Homo sapiens: one gene and its partner. The protein of the gene in region 1 purifies or fractionates together with the protein of each later gene. This does not show direct contact. Each region holds a gene or a part of one and is shown on either strand. Other genes may lie near its edges.

The links.
Region 2: the proteins of TOGARAM1 (region 1) and ARMC9 purify together in Homo sapiens (co-immunoprecipitation; 2 studies listed by IntAct). This does not show direct contact.

What each region holds. Positions count from the first base shown.
Region 1 is NC_000014.9:44,955,611-44,966,775, reverse strand, and holds the start of TOGARAM1 (TOG array regulator of axonemal microtubules protein 1), read right to left. Parts: upstream 4,587-11,165; 5' UTR 4,355-4,586; coding exon 2,309-4,354; intron 1-2,308. Other genes in the region: KLHL28 (kelch-like protein 28), read left to right, coding at 5,848-5,889. UniProt on the Homo sapiens protein: Involved in ciliogenesis. It is required for appropriate acetylation and polyglutamylation of ciliary microtubules, and regulation of cilium length.
Region 2 is NC_000002.12:231,191,150-231,202,959, forward strand, and holds the start of ARMC9 (lisH domain-containing protein ARMC9), read left to right. Parts: upstream 1-7,481; 5' UTR 7,482-7,549; exon of another isoform or gene 7,550-7,796; intron 7,797-11,810. UniProt on the Homo sapiens protein: Involved in ciliogenesis. It is required for appropriate acetylation and polyglutamylation of ciliary microtubules, and regulation of cilium length. Acts as a positive regulator of hedgehog (Hh)signaling.

The DNA of each region.
Region 1 (11,165 bases):
CACTATGTTGCCCAGGCTGGTCTCGAACTCCTGGCCTCAAGCAATCGTCCAAATGTTATGTTAAGGAAATAATCAAAGACTAAAGAACAGTCATGTTAAAAGGACACAGGAGCCAGCCACTAGTTAAATTTGGGACAATTTTATCATGAAAAAGTTAAAAAAAATTTAGTAACAAAAAATAATATGTAATTATTACACATACAAGAAAAAAAGAATTGCAGGTAGTAAACAGAGAAGAAATGTCACAATTTTTTAAAATTACTCTTTTTGTAATTAATTTATTTTAGTATTATTATTATTTTTGAGATGCAGTCTTGCTCTGTTGCCTAGGCTGGGGTACAGTGGTGTGATCTCAGCTCACTGCAACCTCTGCTTCCTGGGTTCAAGTGATTCTTTTGCCTCAGCCTCCCGAGTAGCTGAGATTACAGGTGTGTGCCACCACACCCAGCTAATTTTTGTATTTTTAGTAGAGACGGGGGTTTCACCATGTTGGCCAGGCTGGTCTCCAACTCCTGACCTCAGGTTATCTGCCTGCCTCAGCCTCCCAAAGTGCTGGCATTACAGGTGTGAGCCACCCTGCCTGGCCTTTGTAATTTAAAAATTACAATTTGGGCTGGGTATGGTGGCTCACGCCTGTAATCCCAGCACTTTGGGATGCCGAGGCGGGTGGGTCAGGAGTTTGAGACAGGCCTGGCCAACATGGTGAAACCCTGTCTCTACTAAAAATACAAAAATTAGCTGGGCGTGGTGGTGGGAGCCTGTAATCTCAGCTACTCAGGACACTGAGGTGGGAGAATCGTTTGACCCTGGGAGACAGAGGTTGCAGTGAGCTGAGATTGCGCCATTGCGCTCCAGCCTGGGCAACAGGGCGAGACTCCATCTCAAAAAAAAAAAAAAAAAAAAAAATTACTATTTGTAAGCCCCCAGTGTAATAAATGATACAGGTAAAGACCATTGGTGGATGCTAAACACAGTGGGTGAAAAGTTGTCGGGGTATTCTTAGGGTCTCAAAGTATCACTGTACTGATTATATGCTAATTCTAAAGAGGAAAATATACCTTTACAATGGAGAGATCTGGCTATTACCACCTTATCCAAACAGTAAAATTAAGCATCACCAGTGATGGGACAGCCTGATATCATTTGCCTCATAATGTAATGTACTGTGAAGTTCACACTACTTATCTTCTACTTAATATATATGTATCTCCTATGTAATATTTTCCTAAAAATATTTATTTTGAATCTAATCAAGTAAACATATAAATGTAAAACTTGGGACATTCTACAAAACTACCCCAAACTCTTTTTATAAAAGGCCAATGCCATGAAAAAACAAAGAAACAAACAAGTAGGATATTATTCTAGATAAAATTACAAGGGACATTAACCACATGAACCCTGACTAGATCCTGGATGATAAAAGTAAAACAAGAAATATAAAACACTTTTGGAGACAATTTGGGAAATTTAAATACAGGCTGTCTGTTACATATTATTGAATTACTACTGATAGTCTTAGGTGCAATAATGATTTATGGTTATAAAAGAAGAATGTCATTCTTAGGAGATATATGCCGAGATATTTAGGAGTGAAATCTCAAGATATCCACAATTTACTTTCAAATGGTTCAGCAAATATGGAGGAAATATGTCAAGATGTTACAACTGGTAAATATAGATGAAGTATATGGGTATTCATTGTACTCTTACCTATAGATTTGGAATTTTTTAAATAAAAGCTTTGGGGGGAAAATCTCAGTTCAAATGTTGTATCTTCTGTGGAGGCTTTTTCTTTTTCCTTTTTTTTTTTTTTTTTTTTTTACTTTTCTAGTGGAATTAGTTTTTCTGTCTTCAGTATTCCTGCAGGACTCTTTATATTTCTACTTTAGCACTTAACGAATTTGTTAACTGCTAATTCCCAGGTCTGACCTTTTTCCTATACTGTGTGAAACTGGCCTCATCTTCATTCCCAGAATTTAGCTCTTTATCTGGCACGTACTAGGTATTCAATGTTTGTTGTATGAATGAGATAAACTGACATGCTACAGTAACTAAAACTGAATCTTGGTATTGTCTATATCACATGTGTCTCAAATTTAATTAAATCTATCAAGCAGGAAGCCTATTAAATGGTCCTTTGTGATCTGTACCATTATAATGAGTACCAACATTCAGATGGATTTAAAATCAATTTAAAACAAAGCATAACATGTTTCCCTCAAGCAGGCTGACCCTTAAGTCATCACGGGCATATTTTCATTTAAATTCTTCACACTTTCGACTCAAGAAAATTAGAGAAGCATACCTGCTCTATATCCTTGGAAGTGGAGGTCTGGTTTTCTCCCATGATTCCAGGTTGCTCATTTTCCCATGGTAATTTATTTTTTCCTTTTCCTGCACTTAATACCCTTCGGGTACAGATAGTTGGGCTGTAAGATCCATAAATGTGCATGCTATCCCTCACGTGGTCACCACAGTGACAGTGTGCACTCTGAGTTCTGTTACCAGCCAAAAGCCAGTCCGTATCTGCTCCATGTGCCAAATGGTTTGACCTACCCCCGGCAGAAGATGGCATCAGTACTGCATATTCCACAAATCCCTGCTCTGTGAGCCTTGGTAAGGTTTTCCTAGCCAATCTGGCCTGCACAGCATTCATCACTCCATCTCCATTATCTTGCAGTTCAACTGTATCCACAGCTTTAAAAAGGATGCTGGTTTTACCTGAGCCCATTGATGATGCCAATACGGCAAAAGCTTCTAAAGCTGCTTGGCGTACCCTGCGTTTGCTATCTACAAGAGCTGGGGCAAGATCAAAGGACAGTTTGGGCAAGTCAAAATCCTCACTAGGATAGGTCAGCAGGGAGCAGATGCAAATGTTCACCACCTCCTCTCTCACTCTGGAATGCTTATGTTTGAGATGTTCCAGGAGTAAACAAAGCACCTGCTGAGGTCCTACTTCCTTCATTAGCTTGAGGAAGATTTTCATGTATTCTTGTTTGATCACCAACTTGTTGTCCGCCAGCACTTTGACAGAAGCTGCTATAACTGGTCCCAAGAACTGCTGTACCTGCTCTCCAAGGCGAATAACCAGTAAATGCAGGACTTCAAGTGTGCCATGCACCACTTTGAAGTTAGAATCGTCTAACAAATTATATAGCAAACTAATGAAGCCAACAAGACTAGAATGAGGAGTAGAACTAGGGTTAAATTTTCCCAGCACCTGCTTTAGTTCTTCGACGGCCTGGGTCCGGTTCTTATAGTCTTCCTGATCCAATAATCGTGAATGCAGCTCCTGAGGAATAATCCCAAATTTAAGATTGCTGTTGGAAAGAGTCACTGCACAGGGAAGGGGATCTTCAGGAAATCCAGAGGCTTCAAGTTCCAAATAATAAGGAACCTGACTTCCAAACTGGGACTCCAGGCGGCGATTGTAGTGTCTCCTCAGGGCAGAGGGCAGACGAGAAATGTAAGATTGAAACCTGTCTTGGCCAAGTCGCTCCCCAATTTGTTGAAGTGCGGAGAAAGCTGTCTCAGATTCTTCTTCTGTCTCCTGATCACCAAGCTTTCGGGCTAGGGATATTATCACCTCGGTGAGATCCAGACCAAGCAACAAGTCCTCAGTAGTAAGCAAGATGGGAAGCAGTAGTGCTGTGGAAGCTCTAAGTCGGGCATCGGTACTTTCCAGTCCTTGTTGTATAAGCGTTCTCAGCACCTCTCCAGGACTACGTTTCAGACATATATGAAGGATCTGCAGCGCATCTTTCCGCAGGGCTGGATTCTCTTCCCGTAACGAGACAACTAGTTGAGGCAAAAGTGCTAAGCTAAAGGCCTCTTCAAGCTGGCCTGCCTCCCCCTGACCCCGGAGAACGTCCGAGAGAAGTTGCAAGCAGAGCCGCTTCTCATCACTACCTCCTTCCACAAGCACTCGGCCCAGTGCCCGATACAAAGCTTCCTTGCGTCGGGGGAAGCCAAGTCGACCGCCCCGCCGCGGCAAAGCAGCTTGCAAAGCCTGGAAGGCCTCAGAAGGATCCCGGGCAGTGCGGAGGAGTTGAAGGAGCCGAGTGTCCTCTTCATCTCCCCCTGACAAACCGCCTCCAGACTCAGACCAGCTGCTTGAGACTGCCTCCGAGGGCATCAAGAGGGCCGAGGCCAGAGGCGAAGTTGTAGTGGGGCAGGAACCGTGGTCCCCCGCAGCTCCACGGAAGTAGTAGTTTTTCTCTCCTCTCATAATGCCCCCAACTCGACTATCATCGGTCTCTGGGGCGGAAGGACGACTGCGGCTCTGGAGCCGATAGGTAGAGAGGACTGGAAAGGGCGGCAGCAGAAGCAGCGCGGAGGGGGCAGCCGCCATGCAGGGTTGTCAGGTGGTGGTGGTTGGAAGAAACCATTGCCGTCTCCAAAGGGCTCGATGGAGCCCAGACTTCCAGATCCTCTCCAAGCCCCAAGCTGCAGAAGAGGCAAAAGAACAGCTTCAGCCTGCCGCCAGGCCGCCCCCAACTCCGGGAGGCAGCCTCTGGCAAAATGGCCCCCGTCTGAGCCCTAGACCCCACAGCTGCCACCGGGCGTAACCAAGGGCACCACGTGACCAAACCGATTGCTTCCATGGTGATGTACCCAGCGCGGACCTCTTGACCCGGAAATCCACTTGCCGTGATGAATGCTGGGTTATGTAGTCCACGTCAGGTGTTGAGACTAGGCCAAAGTCTCCTGGAAGAGGAAGTCAGAACGTTGTAAACGCAGCTACAGCGGAGAAGGGAGGAGGGGTGAAGCCATTTGACGGATGTGACGCTTTCCTTGCTCTGGGCGGAAGTTGCCCGCCCCACCCGTAAGAGTTAGGGTTTGACCGGAGCTAGTGAGGATCCAGCCCAGGCTCCAGTTGTCCGCGGTTCCTCCTCCTGTCGCTGCCCGTGTGATTACTGAGACTCAGGTATTTTCCTTTTGCTGTCCTCCAGCGGTGCAGGCTTTGGCAGTGTTTTGCCCGAATGCCACTGGTGCTAGAGTAAGAGGCAAAGGACTGAGCGGAGCAGGTGGAAAGAGAGGCGACATCTTCTTGTGCAGGGCTCGTCACCCTTGTAAACGCGTTACTCTCTACCACCCTGAGTAACTGCGATCCTTTCCTCTTGCCATCTGCTTATCAGGACAGAAGATCTGGACCACGGCCAAGCTCACAAATCGGGTATTTTTTTTCAATTCCTGGTCTTTGGGGCCTTTATTCGCCTCCCCCTTCTCCTTTTGTCGACTTCTCTTAACCCTCCGGCCGCAGAGGGTTAATTTTTTTTTGTTTTTGTTTGTTTGTTTTTGGCAACGTTTCCTTACCCTCATCACTTTGCGTTTTCTTTACAACGTACATAATATGGAAATAGGTCTGTTTTTTTCCCCCTGTAGCTAACCGCCTCTCCCTTAGACGTTATCAAAATCTTTCCTTCTAATGCAGTTCCTCTGTGGGACTCTCCCCTAACCTCCGCCCCCTCCGTCTGCCGCCCTAGCCTCCCTGCAGGATCCTCAAGCGTCTCTGCAGCCTTTCAGTCTCCTAGAGACAGAGATTGCGAAGACAATTTCACTTGCGGTGGAAGTTCTTGGCATCATGGTTCTAAGAGAATTCTGCCTTGTGGATTTAGGAATGATAGTAGACATTTATTTATTTTAGGCGAACTGAGAATTTTGTGTGCATTTTCTCCTCATAAGTGATACTTAAACGGACACAGTGGAAGAGCTGGAGTGTCTAGTGTGAGCCTGAATGCTTTGGAGTGTGGAAGAGATATTTTTTTTTTTTGAAGGAATAATACTATTACTTTTGAATGACTCGTGCGAAAAGTCTAAGTTATCATTTGAAGACCCAAATTTATGCACTTCAAATGCAAGTATTCCTACCCTGCTCTGTACCAGGTGGGATTTCTCTTAAATACTTTTTAAAGTCTTGGAATAAATGAGTCACATATGCCAAACAGCTTTATAAATAATGCTCCCAGCTGATGCAAGTGCAAAAATAATTTCTGGATTTTTGCCTTAAAGTACGATTTGAATATCAGTTTTGTTTTGTTTTGTTTTTGGGGGGGTGGGGGTGGGGAATAGACTATAATGTAAATGAGGCTGTGTAAATATACATCCTATGTTTTGGTTTAAATTCTAGGCTGTTACTTTGGTTTTAATGAGCCATTTTCGTGTTTAAATGAATCTGCCTAAATTAGGTTTAGCTAGCATGTTTCATTTTAGGGACAGGTTAAAGACAGGGAGGTGAAAAACAAGAAATGATTGTAGCAGTTGTCAATGAGAAAGTGTCTGGTTCTCACAGTTCCAACCTAAGAAGCTCAAATGTGTAGACTTCTAGTCATGTATTGCCCAGACTTGAGGAACCCAGTTCAAACTAACCTAGACAATGATGTACACATTACAGTGCCAGTTTATGTTGGATCAGAATTTTCAAGTTGAAAATCCAGTGCACTCTTTCTTGTATCCAAGAACTTGGGAAGCCAAGTTAATAACTAGAGGTTGTGTGGTAATCATGGAATCACAGAAAAGGAACTTCGAAAGTCTTAAATGAGAGACGTGGATACTTAAGCAGTTATCATGCCCTTTTCCTGGGAACAAAGCAAGATGAGTCTTCCTTTTGATTCTTGTTTTTTTAGATCCCTGTGGATCACTATACATTACAGATTGCAATTTATTTTTTATCTGTTACATTTTGTCTCTTTGATTGAAGACTTAGAAGAGGCATTAGTCTCCATAGTGGATATTTAGGAAATGGGACTTCATCAGCATCACGTCTTACTGATTATCTTTTAGAGTTATTTTGTGGAACATAAATCTCATTCATTGAGTGTGTATTCTTTTTATTACGAAGCAGATTTTTTTTAATCTTTGGAAATCTAGGAATTTCTCGTATATTGACTTAAAAAGCCTTTTGTATTTAATCATATATAGAGAGAGTACAAATTTGTAATCAATTTTTAGATAGTAGAATACACTATTAGGTGTTTTATTAATAGTACACCTCAGAAAGTTAAAAGGAAGTGGTTAAGGATACATTGAAAATTGCAAATTCAGCTAAAACAAGTTTAAAATTTCAATAATTTCAAGAATGTAGTTAAATTAGTGAATTATAGGAATGTGTGTGCTACATATGTTAATTTTTTTAGCTGAACTTAAGGGTAAACACAATTGCCCTAAAAACTTACTTTATTTCCAGAATCAGAGATAACACATTAGTTCCCTGGGCGAATCACTATGATTTTTCTGTGTTCTTACTCAAATTTTACAGACATCCAGGAATATTGAACGTCAGTGTGAATTCTGTAAACTATTAAGAATTTTGTGTAGTTTGAGAAGTTATTGTGAAGAAATGCTATGCAAATGAAAGTTGCTATTAATATTAACAAACAATCATAATAATACCATGTTTTGAGTATTTGCTATGTGCCATGCACCATGCTAGGTACTTAGTAAATATTAACTCATTTAATCCTCACAAGAATTTTTTGAGGTTACATCTTCTACATTTGGACTATGGAACATTTTATGGGTGTTTCCACAAAAGAGTAATTGGACAGAGGAAGAAAGTAAAACTCACATTTGCTTAGAGCTTGGAGAAGGTTTTGGTGGAGGTCACTGTTGAAACTTTAGGATAAAATTAGATTTTTTCCATTATTATTCATTTATTATATATCATTTGATTATATATTTTTTAATTTATTATTTTTTCTTTCAATCCTTGGTTGAAGATTATATATATTTTAATCTATCCTTTTTGGATTTCTATTCAAAATATTTTTAGTTTCTTGTTTGAGGTAACACTTTAATAAGTTAAGAAATTATGAGCTTATTTTATACAGGATTGAATCAGTTTTCTTGATGTATATGAGTGATATATTTTCATCTACTTAGGTTTATCTTCCAAAGCCATTATGTATTTCTGTCTTCAGTCAAAACTATAATTTTAAACAAAAATCCAACTTGTATTACATATTAATTACTATGTATAAGTTAACAGAATTTCACATCTGTTGCAGTTTTTCAGTGGACAGGGATTAATTATGTAACTTAGACGCCTGTCATAACATGGATTCAGAAATAACACAGAAGAAAGCAAGTTCAAAGTCATTACCACATCCAGTAAGAGCTCTTGACAGGCTTCTAATTTTACTTTTCTTTTGTTTGTCAATAAAAGTCAAATCTCAGATAAAAGGAAAATATCCTAACTTATTCCATAGGCTCACTGATAGAATTATATACCATTATTAGTTGAATTATCCTATGAGGAAAGTTGAACTGTAGGAAAGAAATTTAAGAAAAGAGCAGATGTGATAGAATATTCTCCTAATTTGATAAATCATTTCTTATTTTCTCTTTTTAAAGAAAACTGTCGGTTTGAATTTTTTTTTTAAGAGTAATCTTGATTTCTGTTCACCATTTATTTACTCTGGGTGTGATCTATATTTATATAGTGGCAGATAAGTGCCTCCCAACTGATTTCAGCACCACTGTTTTGTGGCTTAGGTGTCAATTAAGTAGATAGGTACAAAACTCGCAACTTGACCTTTATTAACTTGGTTTCAGAGCCTAAAGTTAAGTTACTGTAGACTATGGAAAGTTTTATTTTAATTTTAATTTCAAATGGATACTTTTTATTCGATATTGACTAATGCAGTTACCAAGATTCAGAATACTATTGTTTGTTTTATCATTAAAAAAAAAAAAAAAGAACAAAAACTATGGCAGAGATATGGAGGAACCTGATATACCAAATCTGCTTTTAGGCAAATACTGGAAGGCAATGATTGTTCCATGGATCCTTCTTTATTTCATTTTAAAGCCCTGTGTATTTTTGTATCTAATGTGTATTTATTTTATAAAGATTTTATATGAATGATCTATCCTCTGGATTTCCATTCTGCACATTTTTAATTTCTTGTTTGAGTTAAGATTTTAATAAGATTAAGAAATTCTGAGCTTATTTAATAAATGAGGCAGTGTAATAGAATATTTAAGAATTACATAGACAGAGTGCCAAGGTTTAAATCTTGCCTTGGACTTAATTTCTCTGTGCCTCACATTTCTTTATCTGTAAAATGGTGGTAATAATAACAGTGCCTATTATATTGTTGCTCTGAGGATGAAAGGAATTAATACATGTTAAAAGCTTAGACTGTTAACTGGTACATTATGACAGTCAAAGGTATTCTAGATGCTCTTTCATAGAATTATTTCATTTTATGAGAAGTGATAACAATTATAAATTGATTCAGTAAATATTTTAAGCAGCTCAACATTGTTTGGCAGTTAATTTTTTGTATGTAATGTGTAGAGAGCATTGTTCCAAGATTAAGAAAACATTCTAGTCCCAGTAATGTTTTTTACTAATTATGTGATTTTGCTAATTCATTTAAACTCCCTGAACTTAGGATTCTAAAACTGTCTTATTCAAAATTTTGTGCCTTATATTTTCTGTTTTTTAAGAAAAAAGTCTCTTACTGTGCAAAATTTCAAAAACATGTAAAAGCAGAACAATATGATGAACATCTATTTACCTATCACGCATCTTCAATAGTTATCAACTCATGACACCATCTATATCCCCTTCCACAACCTCATCCCCTATTATTTTGCAGCAAATCCTAACAACATATTATTTCATCTACAAATATTTCAATACAGCTGGTCATGGGGGCTCACACCTGTAATCGCAGCTCTTTGGGAGGCCAAGGCAGGAGGATTGCTTGAGGCCAAAAGTTCAAGACCAGCCTGGACAAATAGTGAGATCCCATCTCTACAAAAAATAAAAATAAAAAATATTAGCCAGGCATGGTAGCATGCGCCTGTAGTTCTAGCTACTTGGGAGGCTGAGGAGGGAGAATCCCTTGAGCCCAGGAATTCAAGGTTACAGTGAGCTATAATTGCACCATTGCACACCAATTTCAGCATATATCTGTAAAAGAAAAAAGCTCTTAAAAACACAACCACAATACCACTATTTAGCAACAAAAAATAGCAGTGATTAATTAATATATTAATAATCCAGTCAGTGTGTAAATTTCCAACTGTTTTCTAAATATGTGGGTGCACACACAAGTCTATGGTTCACAGGTTGTATTTGATTGATACGTCTTTTAAATTTATAGATTCATTCTCTTTATTTCTTGCAGTTTATTTGTTGAAGAATTTAGTTTATTTTACAAGATTTTTCACAGTCGGTATGTTTTTGCTAATTGCATCTTTCTGGTATTGTTTAACATGATTTTTCTATTTTCTATATTTTATGTAAATTAATAGTTGGAACTAGAGAATTGGCTGTAGTTTAATTTGCTTGACTTTGGTGTGTGTTGGGGTTGGGACGTGAGAATACTCATGGGTGTTATGTTTTTCCATCAGAAGGCCCAATTATCTAGCTATCTCTCTTTTTGTGATATAAACAGCCCTTCACAATCAATGCCCATTATTTATTAAGGATGCAAAATGATAATATTCCATTATTCCTTCTTTATTTATTAACAGGGATACTTTTAAAAAGAGAAATTTGGCCAGGTGTAGTGGCTCATGTCTGTAACCCCAGTACTTTGGGAGGCCAAGGTGGGAGGATCGCTTAAGACCAGGAGATTGAGACTAGTTTCGGCAAGGTAGCAAGACCCTATCTCTTAAAAAACAAAAACAAAAAAACTCATCTATTTGGAAACCCAGTAGTACAGTTAGTGTAGGAAAGGCATAATAAATGTTTGATTATTTCTCTTTGTTTACTAGGTTTCAAAAAATGAGTTGCTACATTAGCATCGTCCGGTGTTGACCATTAGGACTTTTTTTAAGTATCATTATTAACTCATGCATTTAAAATATCTGATATCGTTTAATCAATTGCAGTTATTATTATTGATGATCAGTTTGTCCTGTCTTTGACTAGTGAAAGCCTATTTAGTTTGGCCCCTGAATATTTTTTATATGACTCTTGTAGTATTTGATAGCTTTCTTGCTACCTAGGATGTATTTATTTATTTATTTTGAGGCAGGGCCTCACTCTGTCTCCCAGGCTGGAGTGCAGTTGTGCAATCACTGCACACTGCAGCCTCGACCTCCTGGGCACAAGCAATTCTCCTAGCTCAGCCCCCCAAGTAGCTGAGACTACAGGCATGTGCCACCACATCCAGCTAATTTTTTTATTTGTTTTTTTTCTTTGT
Region 2 (11,810 bases), on another chromosome or scaffold:
CCTTGAGTTCCAGCAGAGGCACCCAGACTGCTGAGCCAGAAGATTTGCGTTTCTTTTCTTTTTTTTTTTCTTTGAGACAGAGTCAGGCAGATCACGAGGTCAGGAGTTCGAGACCAGCCTGATCAACATGGTCAAAACCCTTCTCTGCTAAAAATACAAAAATTAGCTGGGTGTGGTGGCACGTGCCTATAATCCCAGCTACTCAGGAGGCTGAGGCAGGAGAATCTCTTGACCCCGAGAGGCGGAGGTTGCAGTGAGCTGAGATTGTACCATTGCACTCCAGCCTGGGTGACAAGAGTGAAACTCCATCTCAAAAAAAAAAAAAAAAAAGATGTTCTCTGTGTGCCACATCTTGCTGGTCACCCAGGTGTGTTGACCTGCCAGGAAACTACCCAAATGTGGTCACTTTAGCATCTATTCCTCCAGCTTAAACCAACATGCCACCCTCTGGGCTAACATCCTGTGCCCTGTGATGTGCTTTTTTAAACTTGCTTAGAAAGTGACAGTCCTCGGCCGGGCGCAGTGGCTCATGCCTGTAATCCCAGTACTTTGGGAGGCTGAGGCGGGCGGATCACGAGGTCAGGAGATCGAGACCATCCTGGCTAACATGGTGAAACCCCGTCTCTACGAAAAAACACAAAAAATTAGCCGGCACGGCAGCGTGTGCCTGTAGTCCCAGCTACTCGGGAGGCTGAGGCAGGAGAATGGCGTGAACCCGGGAGGCAGAGCTTGCAGTGAGCCGAGATCGCGCCACTGCACTCTAGCCTGGGCGACAGAGCCAGACTCCATCTCAAAAAAAATAAAAAATAAAAAAGAAAGTGACAGTCGTCATGAAAAGTCTTAAGTGAGTATGTCTATGAACACCACTGATGAAAGCCCTAGCAATCTCTCCAAGTGTGCCTGCTTGGAAACCACCTGGGAATCCAGGCTTGCTCTTCCAGATGTTCATTTTGAGGCCTGAGTTTTTCTGCCAACCTCCTCCAGGCCACAGAACGATTGGGGCAGTGATGCGGCTCACATCCTTGGGACAGGGGAGGAAGGACACACACTAGAGGCCACAGTGGCTGCTCAGTGACTTTCAGGGGTCGCCTGCTTTACCGCCCACCGAGAGCTCTTTTGGGAGATGAATATTTCCACCCGGTGTGCTCTCCTTCCAAGAAATCTTCAGCTTCCAGATATAAACAGCTTTGGGAAGGGGAGTGGGAGGAGAAGCAGCCTTTGGGAGACAATTGTTCCTCCACCCCTACATGGACTCCGGGCTGGGAAGATGAATGGACCTGCATACCCCACACATCATGAGTTTTGAGCAGCGACCAAGATCCAACTTTCCTGGAAGGAAATGTTCGCTTAAGCAGCATCTTGTAATTCATCTCTTGATTTACGCCGGGCATTTCAGTATGTTCCTCCTCCATCCCACTGATTAGATCCAGGCGCTGGGCCTGCCCAGAAACATGCTCTTGGTCTGAACTCCCCCTGCAGGAGCTCCCGGATGAGGCAACTGCGTTTAGTCTAGCTGGCCGCTGGTCTGCCTGGGTGGGTCAGGCTCAGTGTGCTTAATTTAGGTGGCTTCACCCTTTTATGCAACTCAGGAAAGTAACATTTACCAACTCTCCCTCTTTGCTTGTGGTCTCAGCTCTTTGCCTTCCAACAAAGACAGCAGCCAGAAAGATGCCTGCTTTGCCTGCAAAGATGACTTCATTCATGAACTGTGTGTAGCAGGCCACAGAGGAGTGTGACCCTCCTGCCCCTAAAGTACTCAGGGCTAGGGCCCACAGAGGGCTCTAGGCTGCAGAAGAATCAGCTGTGTCCCCCACCAGAATCTAGAGCTCCACCAGTCCCTTCGATGTCCTATGCAAGGCTGAAGATATTGGCTAAAGTGTTCAGCATATTCCAAGGATTTAATTTGAGGTTAAGTTTTTCCCAGCACCAGTGTCATTATAATTCTAGAATCTGAGAGATGGGTGTATGGCGATTCACTAAACCATCCTCTGGTTTTGCATATGTTTGAAATTTTCATAATTAAACAATTTAGAAAGTCATCTTGGGCCCATTGGCAGTATGTATCCCATTTTGGGAAAACTGGAGTGGTCAAACAAGAACATTTGGGGCAAATGGGATGCTTTGGCAGGTCCTAAGAGTGGGGAAGCTGAGGCAGCTGGTTCAGTGTATTGCTATGAACTCATGGAATATACACAGCAGAGCCAACCTAGAGACTGCCTGGAGGAAGCTTCAGAACTAAGCAGTTTTGCCTCTTGTGACAAAAGTATCCTTTGTACTCCCACGAGAACACATCGAATAAGTTAAACAGACTGAGATTGAGTCAGAGATTTTCCACCTAAATACTGGCATTATGCTTACACAAGTGTTCAGGATTCAAAGAAAGTCTTAAATTATAACTAAGGAATTATAGTAGTTTAATTATTTTTAAACTGTATCAAACCGTATCTATTTGTTCCATATCACACCTAGTCACGGGGATGATACAATTCAGAACCAACCCAGATCCTTGACAACTTGAGCTGCTGGTAAGAAGCCAGCTACTTCTGTATTTATTATAAGAAAATGAACCACCACCCCCATTGCTGAGGCCACTTTTAGTTGATATGACATTGTGAAATAAGAAAAATATATAATTAGGCCGGGTACGGTGGCTCACACCTGTAATCCTAGCACTTTGAGAGGCTGAGGCGGGCAGATCACCTGAGGTCAGGAGTTCGAGACCAGCCTGGCCAACATGGTGAAACCCTGTCTCTACTAAAAATACAAAAACTAGGTGGGCGTGGGGGGCACGCACCTGTAATCACAGCTACTCGGGAGGCTGAGGCAGGAGAATCATTTGAACCCAAGAAGCAGAGGTTGCAGTGAGCTGAGATTGCACCACTGCACTCCAGCCTGGGTGACAACAGCAAAACTCTGTCTAACAAAAAAAAAAAAAAAAAGAAAGAAAGAAAAAGAAAGGAAAAATATATAATTGATCTCTGCCCCTGGCTCCTGGCACAGAGCTCCTAAAATTCTTGTCATTTCCTGAGTGATGGGGCACTAGGTGGATCTTTTTGTTCTATTTGGTCTTTGTCCCTTGCTCCTGATAAAGGGTCCTAATCCCTTGGAATTTCATGGGTGATGGGAACATCTAGTATTCTAATGAGATGACTCTTGGTGGGCTGGTCACCAGAAAAACCAAGCCAAGGTTAGAAGCTTGGAACTTTCAGCCCCATCCCCATCTTCTGGGATGGGGAGAAAAGCCAGAGATTGAGTTGATAATTGATTGTGCCGACCAGGCGCAGTGGCTCACGCCTGTAATCCCAGCACTTTGGGAGGCCAAGGCAGGCAGATCACCTGAGATCGGAAGTTCGAGACCAGCCTGACCAACATGGAGAAACCCTGTCTCTACTAAAAATACAAAATCAGCTGGGCGTGGTGGCGCATGCCTGTAATCCCAGCTACTTGGGAGGCTGAGGCAGGAGAATCGTTTGAACCCCGGAGGCGGAGGTTGCAGTGAGCTGAGATTGCACCATTGCACTCCAGCCTGGGCAACAAAGAGTGAAACTCCGTCTCAAAAATAATAATAATAATAATAACAATCGATTGTGCCTGCATTACGAAGCCTCTGTAAAAATCCCTCAACCACAGCGTTTGAAGAGCTTCTAGACTGCTGAACCATGGAGGTACCTGGAGTGGGCATGGAAGGTCTGCGCCCCCATCCTTTGCCCTGGGTACCATCTCATCTGGCTGTTTATCTGTAACCTTTGTCACATTCTTTATAATGAGCCAGTACATGTGAGTGTTTCCTTCTATGAGCCATCCTAGTAAATTAATGGAACCCTCATTTATAGCCATTTGGTTAGAAGTACAGATGACAACTGCTACTTTTGACTGGCATCTGAGGTGGGGGACAGTCTTGTGGGACTGAGCCTTTGACCTATGGGATCTGATTCTAACTCCAGTCATTAGCTAGTATCAGAATTGAATTGTAGGACAACCAGTTAGTGTCTGCTGGATAGTTGCTTAGTGTGTAAGGAAAAACCTCCACACATCTGCTGTCAGAAGCATTGTGTTGAGGACGGGCATGGTGGCTCACACCTATAATCCCAGCACTTTGGGAGGCCAAAGCGGGAGGATCGCTTGAGCCTAGGCGTTCGAGACCAGCCTGGGCAACAAAGTGGGACCCCACCTCTAAGGAAAAAAAAAAAAAGAAAAAGCCGAGCATAGTGGTGCGTGCTTGTGGTCCCAGCAGCTACTTGGGAGGCTGAGGCAGGAGGATCACTTGAGCCTGGAAGCTGAGGCTGCAGCAAGCTATGACTGTGCCACTTCACTCTAGCCTGGGCAACAGAGTTAGACTCTGTCTCAAAAAAAAAAAAATGTGTTGAGTGTGAGAAGAGTAAAAGCAGTCAGTTTGGTTTTTCCTATCTCAAACAGACATATAGAAATTGTGTCTATGTTAGTCTGGTCTCTTTTGGTTGCAAGTGACAGAAACCCAACTTGAACCAGTTTATTAATTAAAATAATTTTTTTTTTGTACAGACGGATTTTTTTTTTTTGTACAGATGGATGTTGCTATGTTGTGTAGGCTGGTCTGAAACTCCTGGCCTCAAGCAATTCTCCCACCTTGGCCTCCCAAAGTGCTGGGATTACAGGCATGAGCCACCATGCAGGTCCAAACTAGTTGAAATTAAAAAGATGGTTGAAGTCGGGTGCAGTAATATGTATAATCCCAGCACTTTGGGAGGCTGAGGCAGGCAGATGGCTTGAGCTCAGGAGTTTGAGACCAGCCTGGGCAACATGGCAAAACTCCGTCTCTATAAAAAGTACAAAAATTAGCTGAGCGTGGTGGCACATGCCTGTAATCTCAGCTATGAGGGAGGCTGAGGTGGGAGGATTGTTTGAGCCCAGGAGGCAGAGGTTGCAGCAAGCTGAGATTGCGCCACTGCACTCCAGCCTGGGTGACAGAGTAAGACCCTGTCTCAAAAAAATAAAAAATTTAAAAGACAGTTGATTGGAAGGATGCTGGAGGAGCTGTAAGAATAAGTGCAGCTCCAGGGAACTCAGATCCTGGGACCAGGGATTTGATGTCCCCAGCACTTTCTTTGCATTTCTCTAGGTAATGGCTTCATCTTCTCAGTCTTTCCCATGTAGTGAATGCTGTAGGCTGCCCTGGAGTCTCACTTTACAATAACCTGACCACACTTCAACAGCAAAATCCCAGGGAAGGACTATCATTGGCTTTGCTTGGCTCACATGCCCATCCTGGACCCATCACTGAGGCCAGAGGGATGGGGTAAGATTGGTCCAGTTTGGACCATCTGCCCATCCTGTGGTGAGGGATGGGGTATGTTACCAGAAGGGAGAGGGGAGGTAGACAGACAAAGACAATAGCCACCACAATGACCATAATCCCGGCAGTCAGGCAAATGCACTCAGGAGGGAAAGCAAAGCAGGTGGGGTGTTCACGGCAGCTCAGAGCCCAGGGTCCAGAGACACGGAGACCTGGGTTTAGTCCTGGTCTCCTCAGTGGTGTAAACTTTGAGGAGTTTCTTAATCCCGTATGCCTCATGTTGTTCATCTTGCCAAAGACAAAACAGACAGCTCTAATCTCAGCTAATCAACCATGAGACAAAGAATGAGAAGCTGAAAAGTCTGTCCTTGGCCTTGCCGGCAGACTCAGGCAGAAGGGAAAAGGTCTGCATTTGTCCTTGTCACAGGTAAACAAGGGGGTCATCCGTGCATCATATGGGAGGCATGAGAAAGACAGGACTGTGGGTCTGATGAAGTCATATGTGGAAGGGTAGTTCTTTCTGATAAGCTACTTCCCAGAACACAAAAGTGTGGAGGATTTTAGAAAACAAAAGGTTTGGGGGTGCGTGGGTGAGATTTCTTAACTGTGGCTGTTTTCTAAGAGCACACAGCTCAGGTTAATTACAACATTGTCAATCAGTAAAATGCTGAAAATATTATTCATCTCATAGATGTGGTGTGAGAATTAAAAACTTTTTTTTTTTTGAGACAGAGTCTCACTCTGTTGCCCAGGCTGGAGTACAGTGGCGTGATCTCGGCTCACTGAAACCTCCATCTTCCGGGTTCAAGGATTCTCCTGCCTCAGCTTCCCGAGTGGCTGGGACTACAGGCACATGCCAATACGCCCAGCTAATTTTTGTATTTTTAGTAGAGACAGGTTTCACCATGTTGGCCAGGCTGGTCTGAAACTTGTGACCTTAGGTGATCCATCTGCCTTGGCCTCCCAAGTGCTGGGATTACAGGTGTGAGCCACCGTGCCGGGCCTGGTGTGAGAACTAAAGAAAACAATCTATATGATTCACTTAGCACAATGCTGGGCACACATATAGGCTGCACGTTTTGCAAACAAAAATACAGAACAATATAACATCCTACATGCACAATAAAATGAAGCAGTTTTTGGGATTTACTTACACTAAAACATTATCTAAAATTTACATTTAACTGTGTGTTCTATATTTTGTCTGGCATCTCCCGGCATACAGTTGTGTTGACGATAAATATTATGGCCATGGATTGAAGATTTATTTTCAATCCATATTACCTGGACAGAAGATAGGGCTCTCTTCTACTAAATACAGCTTTTTTTCTTTTGGAAGACAATCCACTGGCAGGGTTGGGGACTGGGGAAGTGGTGGCCACAGCCCATCTTAGGGCTTCTTCAAAGGCGAGCTGACCTACCTTCTCCGTGCCCCATTCCCTGTCTCTGGCCCTGGTAGCCTCCTCCTTCTTGGAAGCATGGAGGTGGAAACACTGAGGTGGCAACGAGAGACTCCCACGGAATCTCAACGCCTGGAGGGGAGGGATTTTCTATCCATGGCCATCTCTTCACCCTCCAGCACAAAGTTGGGTGACTAGCAAGTGCTCATTCAGTGCTGATGAACTTCAGTTCAAAAGCATCAGGTGCAAAGAGAGGGAAGACGTGTGCTCCTGATTTATTTTTAATAGCCCACATTTGACATGGAAAACAAAAAGTTTCTCTGAAATCCTTGGAAACCGCTGCAGTGGGGCGGGACCCTGGTCCCCGGAGCTTTAATGCACATCTTGGGCGTCACTTTTGGTTCTAAGGTGGCCCCAGGTCCCTCCTTTAAGATGGGAATAACCATGCCTGACTCTTTCCCCACGGACACCACACTGTCCTAGTTTGTGTTCTCTACGCGACCACGAGCTCCTTGAGACAAGGGGTTGAGCCTGCTCCGGCTCATCCCGAGAGCCGGCGCAGCGACTGGCGCAACGAAAGGGAAATGAACGAATGAATGAACGAACGAAAGTGGAGTGGTGGAGAGGACCACAGAAGACGCGGTCATCCAGCGCGTGAACCTTCACCACTGCTGGGCTGTGGACCCTCACTTCCGCCGCCAGGAAGTTTCGGGGTCGCCCACCTTCCCTCCCAGGCTGCTCCGCGTCGGCGGCGCCCCGCGCGATTGGCTGCGCCGCCCCCACGTGACGCCGGGGTGGCGGCGGCGGTTGCCCGGGTGACGGCTGCGGAGGTGGCGGCCGGGCTGGGATAGCGCGAGTGTCCGCGGCCGAGCAGCAGGTAAGCGCGTCCCCGGATGCAGCCGGGCCACCCTCCGCCCGCCGTCCTGGTGCTGGGAGGAGCAGCGGTGCGTTTGGAGGGCCGAGGCTCTGCGGACCTCTTGTTCCGAGGAAAAACCCGACGCGCCCGCTCCGCCGCCGCCGGATGCTACCACTTCTCGCCTGCGGTCCAGGGATCTTTCTTCGGCAAGGGCCGAGGCGGCCGCCTGGACATCCCAAGAAAGGACAGGCCCAGCTGCTTCCCGCAAGTAGTCCCTGATCTTTGCTGCAGTGGGCCATACTTGGAGGGGGTCCCTCAAGCCATCCAGCTGGTGGTGGCGGCGCGAGCGGGTTATCCGGGATTTAGATCCCCCTGATAATCTCCATCTGCTAGCCGCGTTCCTGAGGCACCCAGTTGAAGTCCAGACTTCACCTAATCTTAGGAAAAACAGGATGCGTGCTATGCAGATTCGGCTTCCATACAAATCCCATAATCCCACCCGTTTGTGGGCCCTAAATCTTTCTTATATAGGAATTCAAAAGCTGCCGCTGCAATCCCCAAATGTAACTGGAAAAGTTTTTCTTAGTTTCCGCATAAAGGAGAGCACTGGTTCTCAAACTTGAGAGTGTGTAAAAGTCACTCAGGGAGCTTGTTTAAAAGGCAGATTTCTGGGCATGGTGCCTGCCACGGTGTTCAGTAAGACCAGGGTGGAGGCAGGAATTTTCATTTGCACAAGCGTGCCAGCTGATTCTGATTTAGGTGGTCCAGACTTTGGGAAATACTGTGTAGTGGTTCTTTTCAGCCGCTTAGTCACTTACTGTGGCTGTTGGGAGTGTGTCAGACTTCCTGGGCCTCAAATTGCCTCATCTGGAATGGGAAAATATAAACTATATTCACCTGTCAGGTTTACTATGAAGGTTAAATGTAAAACATTTTGCACATTGCCTGGCATACCATATACCTTCAATAAATGATACCTATTATGATATAAAAGTTTAGAGAAAATTCTGTAATTTCTTTTTCTTTTCCTTTTTTTGAGACGGAGTCTTTCCCTGTCGCTCAGGCTGGAGTGGAGTGGCATGATCTCGGCTCACTGCAACCTCCACCTCCTGGGTTCAAGCGATTCTCTTGCCTCAGCCTCCCTGGTAGCTGGGATTACAGGTGCAGACGCCACCACGCCCGGCTAATTTTTGTATTTTTAGTAGAGATGGGGTTCCACCATGTTGATCAGGCTGGTCTCGAACTCCTGACCTCAGGTGATCCGCCTGCCTCAGCCTCCCAAAGTGTTGGGATTACAGGTGTGAGCCACTGTGCCTGGCCAATTCTGTAATTTCTAAGAATGTTGAGTAATAGGATACCCAGCAGCACTCACATTCAATGACAGTTGATCACAGCAGATACTATTTAAACGGCTTAGGGAGGTCTACTCTAAGGAGGTGATGTTTATTAGGCACAGTGGTTAACCAGGTGAAGAGAGGGAAGAGTGTTCTAGGCGGAGAGAGTAATATGCGCAAAGGCCTTGAGGTTGGCCTCAAGGTTTCAAATTCTCAGAAACTCACTTTTCCCGTTCCAGGGCCTTTAAAATGACATCCCCTCAGCTCCGGCTTCATTTATTCATTATATGCCTTGAGTACCTTTCTTGCTTACTAGACACTCTGTTAGGTTCTGGGGATATGAAGTTGAAATACAGCTCCCTGTCTTTGTGAACAGGGTTATAAGAAGTGCCAGGTGCAGTGGCTCATGCCTGTAATCCCTGCACTTTGGGTGGGTGAATCGCTTGAGGTCAGGAGTTCAAGACCAGCCTGGCCAACCTGGTGAAACCCTGTCTCTACTAAAAATACAAAAATTAGCTGGGCGTTGGTGGCGGACGCCTGTAATCCCATATACTTGGGAGGCTGAGGCAGGAGAATCACTTGAACCTGGGAGGCAGAGGTTGCAGTGAGCCAGATTGCACCTTTGCACTCCAGCCTGGGCGGCAAAAGTGAAACTCCATCTCAAAACAACAAAATTAGCTGGGCGTCATGGCGCATGCCTATAACCCCAGCTACTTGGGAGGCTGAGGTGGGAGAATCACTTGAACCCAGGAGGTGGAGGTTGCAGTGAGCCGAGATCCCGCCACTGCACTCCAGCCTGGGCAACAGAGCTAAACTCCATCTCAGAAAAAGAAAAAAAAAAAAAAGCCTTGGTAGGGAAAGAAGGGAGGGGTTTTTCATGGAAGACTTCTTGAAAAGAGATTAAATCTGGCTTGGCTTAGAATCATGAGTCATGTTTGCCTGGGGGGGCAGAGCATACATCAACCACAGGCTTAGGATCCTGGAAGAGCTTGTTGCATGGGGGAATGGCCAGGAGTTCGCTGTTGGCAGGGTCCAGTGTGGGATTGGTGGAAGGGAGCAAGGAGAGGGATCAGGTAGGGGGAGGTGGATGGATTGGAGGCATGGTCCAGAAAAAGGCTGGAGAGGTGGGTGTCCCCCAGGAGCAGCTGCCTTTCTTCTCTCCCCTTTTGCATCTGGCAGGGCTGGTGTGGTGCATGGGGAGGTGTCCTCCCTGCTCCTCATTACTGCTTCCAGATCACTACCCACTCCTTCACAAACCCCAGCTCCTTTGAAGCACATGGCAGATGCCATACCCCTTGCCAGCCCTCCCTGAGGTAGCCACTTCCCAGGGCAAGTCTCTCCAGTTCCCTTGGAGCCTCCAGCACCCGGCTGGCTGCCTATCCCTTCATCTCTTTTACTTCACTTTTGGGGGTTTCCACATCCTGGCCCCTCCAGTTTCTTCATCCTCCTTACTTGCAGGCGTCTCTTTCCTCCATCCTCCTCATCTGCCCACTCCCGTGGTCGGGAGCTTTTTAGTACTAGTCACCTTCAAAGTCTTGCCTTCAGGCATCTGTCCCACTCTCTGCCCACTCCTTTCCATCTTTCACACTCACTGGAATGTGCCTCCTTCAGCAGGTCTCAGACCCCACTGCTTCCTCACTGCTCTGCAGCCGCCTTATGTGTGTTCCCCTCCCCCATTCTTAACCTGATTAGTTCCAGTGTCCCATCGTGGTTGTACTGTTTTCCCTTTCCTCTCTCTTCTAGAAGAACCTCTCACATTGGTTAACCTAACTCAGATAGCTGAAAGTGCCTGGAGAAGAGCTGCAAAACTGTGCAGACTGATTCCATTTTAGATTCAAGTGCAGAGATCTTAAATGGACTATAATACCAGCAACCCTGCCATGTTGCTGTAGTCGCTTTGGTTCCCACCCTCCCTTCCGTTCCCACTCTCCCTTCTCTTCGAACTGTCACCATGCTTCTTACTTGCAGCCGATGACCTTTTTTCTTTCTTTCTTTTTTTTTTTTTTTTGACAGAGTCTCACTCTGTTGCCCAGGATGGAGTGCAATGGCACGATCTCGGCTCATTGCAACCTCCACTTCCTGGGTTCAAGCGATTCTCCTGCCTCAGCTTCCAGAGTAGCTGGGATTACAGGTGCCTGCCACCACACCCGGCTAATTTTTGTATTTTTAGTAGAGATGGGGTTTTACCATGCTGGTCAGGCTGGTCTTGAACTCCCAGCATCAGGCGATCTGCCTGCCTTGGCCTCCCAAAGTGCTGGGATTACAGGCGTGAGCCACCGTGCCCAGCTGATCTTGTTTCTTGTTTCACTTTTTTTTTTTTTTTTTTTTTGAGACAGGGTCTTACTTTGTCACCTAGGCTGGAGTGCCATGGCGTGATCCCGGCTCACTACAGCCTTGACCTTCCTGGTTCAAGTGATCCTCCTGTCTCATCCTCCCCAGTAGCTGGGATTACAGGCACACACCACCACACCCAGCTAATTTTTGTATTTCTGTAGAGATGAGGTTTCACCACGTTGCCCAGGCTGGTCTCGAACTCATGAGCTCAAGTGATCTGCCTGCCTTGGTGTCCCAAAGTGCCAAGATTACAGGTGTGAGCCACTGCACCCAGCCTGTTTCACTTCTAATCACTAAATCTGTGTCTTTGCTCAGCACCCATATTCTCTGCTATCCCTCTGAATGCCGTTCCTGCTTCTCCCTTAAACTCCAGGCTCATATATCTGTAAGAATTAAAGAAAGAGGAGAGAAACACGAAGGGTGACTTGACAGTCAACAGGTTTGTTTCCTGGGTAACGGCCAAACTTCACCCTCTTACAATGGGCCTCAGTATAACAGTGGGCCTTAATAAGGACATTCTGTTCCCTTCAGGTGCACTAAGGGAAGCTAAAAGCAGACTTGGGGGGTATGCCTGCAGCTGCAGAAAGTTGTATAGGAACAGACACACAACTCTC